2 separate regions of the Homo sapiens genome follow, and region 1 is linked to region 2. The links come from fine-mapping of genetic effects on gene expression. A gene starts in region 2. The other region holds a variant in brackets. All regions are shown on one strand. Distances are between the middles of the regions. Region 1 overlaps IQCJ-SCHIP1 (IQCJ-SCHIP1 readthrough). Region 2 holds the start of IQCJ-SCHIP1 (IQCJ-SCHIP1 readthrough).

Region 1 (2,872 bases), 800 kb before region 2:
AAAGCAAATACACAAAGTAAACACCAGGCCCAGAGAGAAATGAGTCCTACCAAGCTTTATAGAAACAGATCATAAAAATATTATGTAAACTTTTCTTAGACAATATGAAAGAGAATACTTCCCAATCCATTTTTAAGCCAGCATAACCCTGATACTAAAACCAAGCAAAAATGTCAGAAGAAAAGAATACAATAGATTCATGTCAATCATGAATATAAACCTAACAATCCTAAACAAAATGTTACAAATAAAATATGAATTTTATTTATAATTATTTACTCAGATTTTATTTATAATATTAGTATCTGAAAAAATATAATACTCCAACAGTATCTGAAAAAATATAATACTCCCTAACCACTTTAGGTTTAGACTGGGTATGCTAGCATGGTTTAATATTTTGAAAATCTATAAATGTAATTCATTAATTCATATAATAGATTAACAGAGTGAAATTGTACTTTTTCTTCAACTCAACAGATGAAGAAAAAGCATGTGATACAGTTAAATACCCATTCATGATAAAAATTCTTTGTAAGTTATACCTGGGAGGGAACATCATCTCATAAAGAGAATCATTAAAGGAAACATAAAATTAACATCATCTGAAATGGGAAAACAGTAGAAACATTTCATTTAATATGAGAAATTAGCTAAGGATTCCAACTACTACTATTTCTAATCCTCACTGTATTAGGGTACCTAGCCAATCCAATAAGACAAAGAAACCAAAAGCATGAGAATTGAAAATGAATAAATAAAGCTGCCATTATTTGTAGATGATATCATTCTTTAAAAATCCCAGGGAATCTACAGACAACTTTATTAGAAATAATAGGAGAGTAGAGAAGTAATAGGAGTAATAACAAAGTGGCTGAATATAATACTAGTATACAAAGTTAATTGCATTTCTGTTCACCAGCAGCAAATGAGAAAGCATTACTGAAGAGAATTTATCAGAATAGCAAGTATCTAGAAATAAATATAACAAGAGATGTGTAATATGTCTAAACCTTATTAAGAAAGAAATAAATATAACAAGAGATGTGTAATATGTCTAAACCTTATTAAGAAATACCTAATAAGATCTAAATAAGGGGGAGACAGACCATATTCATGGATAGAAAGACAATGAGAAAATGTAATGCTTCCTAAATTGGTCTATAGAATCAATGCAATTACAGTCAAAATTCCAAGAGAGTATTTTGTTGAACTTGATTATATTATTTAAAGTTTATGTGGAGGAATAAAAAAAGCCGTAACAGGCAGCATACTTCTGAAGAAAAAGAATAACAAAAAGGACTTTCCTGTCCAGATATCAGGACTTATTTTGAAGCTATTGTAATTAACACTATAGTTTTGCTGCTGAGATAGAAACAATAATAAAATAGAATATATTTCCATTAACATACAGTATATATGGGAGTAGTCTATAAGATCAGTGAGTAAAAGAGGGATTGTCCAATAAATATGAT[A/T]AAAAAATGGTCATATATAAGGAAAACGATCAAATTTGACTTCTCCATACCATATCAAGAAATCAACTTTTGACTGATTGCAGACTTTTAAAAACTCAACACTTTCGACTCTTGGTAGGAAATCTAATGAATGTCTATTGGATCTTGGGGGAGAAGAAAATTTCTTACACAAGATACAGAAAGCCATTGACTAGAAAAGTTTGATAAAATTCAGTATAAAATCAACCTATAAAATTCAGAACTTCTGGTCATAAAACACATATTAAAAAAGTGAAAAATAAGTTACAACCTGGGAAATGATATATGCAATACATACAGTGTATTAAGGATTAGTATCATGACTGAAGAACTTCGATAAGTTGATGAGAAAAGCATAAAGAATCCAACAGCAATTTGGCATAGGACCCAAACAGATATTTCACAGAAGAGAAAACAAATACGGCTAATATACACAATAAAAATCATTTTATACCTATTCAATCTTCACAAAAACTTAAAAGAATTGGCAATATCAAATGTTAGTAACGTTATGGATCCACAGGATCTCTGAAACATTGCTGGTAGGAGTATAATCTGTTGCAACCATGTTGGAAAACAGTTTGACATTATATTCTAAGTGTAAACAATCATGTATTTTCCTAGTAATTCTACTCCTAGGTATGCCCCAAAGAGAAACTCTTGCATATGTATAGCAGAAGACATATACAAGAATGTTTATACGTAGCATTGTTTACAAGAGCAAAACCTTTGAAATAATCCAATGCCCATTATCAGGAGAGAGGCCAAATAAATTGTGGTATATTCACACACTGGAATACAAATGCAGAACATGGGGAGAAAGGAGGCAATTCTAATTTCAGGACAAAAAATAAAATTTCTCAAGTAACCATAGTTTACTACGTGGTTCAGTGGGAATAATGCATAATTTACACTTGATCTTAGCTAAAAGGCTGAGAAGCGATGAATAATGCATAATCTTAATAATGTAAACATTAAATAGCTATTTGACTCTAAATTGTGAAATTACTCTAAAGGAAGAATAGAAGAGATGACAGTCTTTGGGAGGGCTGTAAAAAAAGAGCTAAATCACTATCTTTTTATAGCAGGTAGTCTGATGGTTAAAATAAAAACTAAGAAGATAAGCATTTTATTTAGAGATATGTAGGTAAATACCAGAAGAAACAGTTAAGGAGTAAAAAGTTATTTCTTCTGGAGAGTGGCACAAGGATAATATAAATATATCTGGAGTATACATATACACACACACACACAAAGACACATATATATATGTATACATCCATATATACCTATGTACATATACATATATATGGGTTATATATAGGTATGTTACATATAGATTAATATTAGCTAATATATACGTATGTTATATATAACCC
Region 2 (2,941 bases):
GCAAAGTGAAAGAATTATTATAATCTGAAGACCAGAAAACAAGTTTCTATTACAAAAGTAAGCAATACTCAAGATCAGTTATTTTTAAGCATATAGCACATTGTAGTCATAATTAGCTCACCACCAGTTAGAAATATACATACACATTTTTCAAAATAAGTCTTTTAAATATAGTGTTGCAAGTATCTTTCTAGCTTAAGAATTTGAAATAGCAATTAAGTATGAACCTTAAATAATTCATCTTTATAACTAGAAGAGCAAGTCCCAAGGATGTAAATCTCACCCAATGAGACAAGGGATGCTGAATATATTATTAATTGCTAAGTAATCTCTTAATCTTAGAATCTAGCACCCAACACTAGCAAATAAATAATGTGATTTATGAGCCTGCACTCTCACGCTGCTTTACTAGAGTTCAATAAACACATGCAGATCCTAAATGTACAGTGTGAATGTGATTCCTACAAGCCAGAAAACATAGAAGGATTTGGCTATAGCAAATCTACCCCATCTACTTATTATTCAAGCACTAGTATTTAGAATACCTAAAATTCCTGCTGAACACTGCGGATCAACGTCCCCCTGAGGTTCTCCAAAGCAGAACCACATCTCTTCCCCTCAGTGCTTACTGAGTTTTAAGAAGGCAGGTAACATGGGGTAGAAATTCTCGTGCAGCAGCAATATAACTCTTCTCTCCCAATTTTCAAAAATCAACACCTCCTCCCCATACACACGCACACACACACACACACACACACACACACACACACACACACACAAGAAAGGAGGGCTTTTTAAATAAGTGTTTAAAACATACCATTTGCATGGGTGTGAAAAATGTATTTTTCCTCTACTTGCTGTTGTTGTGTAAGATATTTACAGATCTGACTAGAAAATCTGGATGTTCATAGGAAGTGTTGCTTTCAATGAGATTCCTTTAGTGAAATCTGTCCGCACAGACACATGTATACATAAATAATACATATTTATGCACACATGCCTACATTAACAAGGACACATGCACACGCACCTAGACCAATAATTAAGCCCACACTGTTCTATAAGCTCTTTTTGACATTTTTTGCATACATGTTAATTCAGAAGACAGATTTTTAAAAAATAATAAGCAGCTGCATATAATGCACATCAAAGTGGCACGTTTAGAAAAGCAAATACATTACCAGACGCATTTTGAAGTTTCTGGAACACCTGCAGGTGAAAGGAGACTGGATCGGATGCTGGCACACTGTATTCCTCAGAATCACAGAGCGCAATGTGACTGTGGGGGAATGTGAGGCGAGTGTGAGGCTGGAAACCTTTGAGTTGAGCTCACTCTAGGCATCAGAAAGCCTCAAAGAGGGGAAAGAAAAAGGCAGCCCACAGACAGCTAGATGAGAAACTTCTGGCACCTCTCCAGCTCAGGAATGAATTCTCTGTAATTTGGAGACGTATAGTGATGGAAATGAAGAGAAACTTGGATTTACGGGTGAATTTGCTCAGCCATGCAGAAACAGGCAGGTAACAGCCTCTCAGCTCATTTTAAAACAGTCATTGAGAAACAAGACTGAATCAAAAAATTAAGAGGCATCCTGCTTTTGAAAAAATGAAAAGGCTACTCCAGCCAGCTTCCCTAGATACCTTTACAAACTTCAAATGGATCATTCCATCAGCTATTTGTTGCGCATTTTATTAATCCCAGTGCAGAGGTAAACTGGAAAATCTAATTCCTTTTATGTAGAAAACTAGATTTATTGCTTCTTTTTATAATGCACTTTAGACATATAAACACATAGATTTACTTGCAGAGTTCTCGTTTCTCATGTAAAACCACTACTGTTTGGTCCAGATAAAATGCTAAAAGGCTTGTTCACAGCTTTTCAAGGAAGTGGAGAAAAAAAAATGTTTAATACTCAGAAGCTGAGCTGAGTACTGATATTTAAATGTACAGTTTGAAGCAAAGAGAATATAAAGGAAGAGCCCTGAAACATTAAGTGGTAGCTAAGAGGTACGATTATATACAAGCATTGAGCAGGCAGGTGGCTTAAGTCTATAAATTTATACATAATTAAGCATAGGAAGAAAAGAGATTTGGCAAATTAAGTTATTAGAGACAATAGCTGTTATTTTGTTTAGGTTTACAAATAGGCTAATAATTTCTGAGGAGTGCACGTGGACATCACCTTGTCTGAAGAACTCCTAAACCTCACAAATAGAGAGCGAGGTCGAAGGCATTGCACAGTGGCAATCTATATTCAAATGTAATGAGGAGGAGGACAATATTACCATGAAGAATGTTGTCATATTACATTGTGCCTGTGTGGCTTAACTACTCATCCAACCTTGCAAATGGCCATTTGCCTGGACTCAATAGCAAACGTGCTATTGATGGGTGGGAGGAGGTGGGAGGCTGATTTTATTTGTTTTACCAAGGACACTCCTTTGGGAGGTTCGGGGATAAAATGCCTGGGCTGAGCATGGGAGTCATTCTGTTCAAGGCCACACATGCCTATAGTAAATTTGAAGTGGAATTAATGATGACCAATTAAGCTATTTATTATTTTAACTCTTGAGGTCAAGGGCAGAACAGTATTTATGTTTATTGATAAAGAGTCAATGGTCAGACTGCTGCAGAAGGCCAGACTCACCTTTAAGCACGCTCGATTGATACGTATTGACCGAGGCACCGCCAGTCCCCCTCACATTCCACTGCTCAGGCCTGTTTGCCTAGATTCTGTTCTTAGCTCTCCACTGCCATTTGTTTCATCCATTTGTTCAACAAATATCCACTGAATTACACATCAGATGCTGTGTAGAACACAATGACCCTTAAGATGAGAACTCCCTCAAGGGGCTTACCATTGTCAAATAGTACCACAAGGGACTCAGCAGGGGATGGACACAACAGAATTACTTACAAAATTCATGCTCACTGCCATCTCTT

Evidence for each region. PIP is the estimated chance that this variant, and not a neighbour inherited with it, causes the effect.
Region 1: its variant is fine-mapped to the expression of IQCJ-SCHIP1 in lung (TOPMed, PIP above 0.99).

The regions. Positions count from the first base shown.
Region 1 is chr3:159,868,073-159,870,944 of GRCh38, reverse strand. The region is part of intron 5 of IQCJ-SCHIP1 (IQCJ-SCHIP1 readthrough); the gene reads right to left. All of the region lies in intron 3 of SCHIP1 (schwannomin interacting protein 1), which reads right to left. Among named protein-coding and RNA genes, the nearest start is that of IQCJ-SCHIP1-AS1, 100 kb to the right of the region's middle. The variant A/T (reference allele first, on the strand shown) is at 1,476.
Region 2 is chr3:159,067,682-159,070,622 of GRCh38, reverse strand. IQCJ-SCHIP1 (IQCJ-SCHIP1 readthrough) reads right to left here and starts at 1,304. Exons shown (of 10, transcript NM_001414413.1): 1 at 1,182-1,304. The coding sequence starts at 1,190. It overlaps IQCJ (IQ motif containing J), which reads right to left and starts at 1,304. Exons shown (of 4, transcript NM_001042706.3): 1 at 1,182-1,304. The coding sequence starts at 1,190.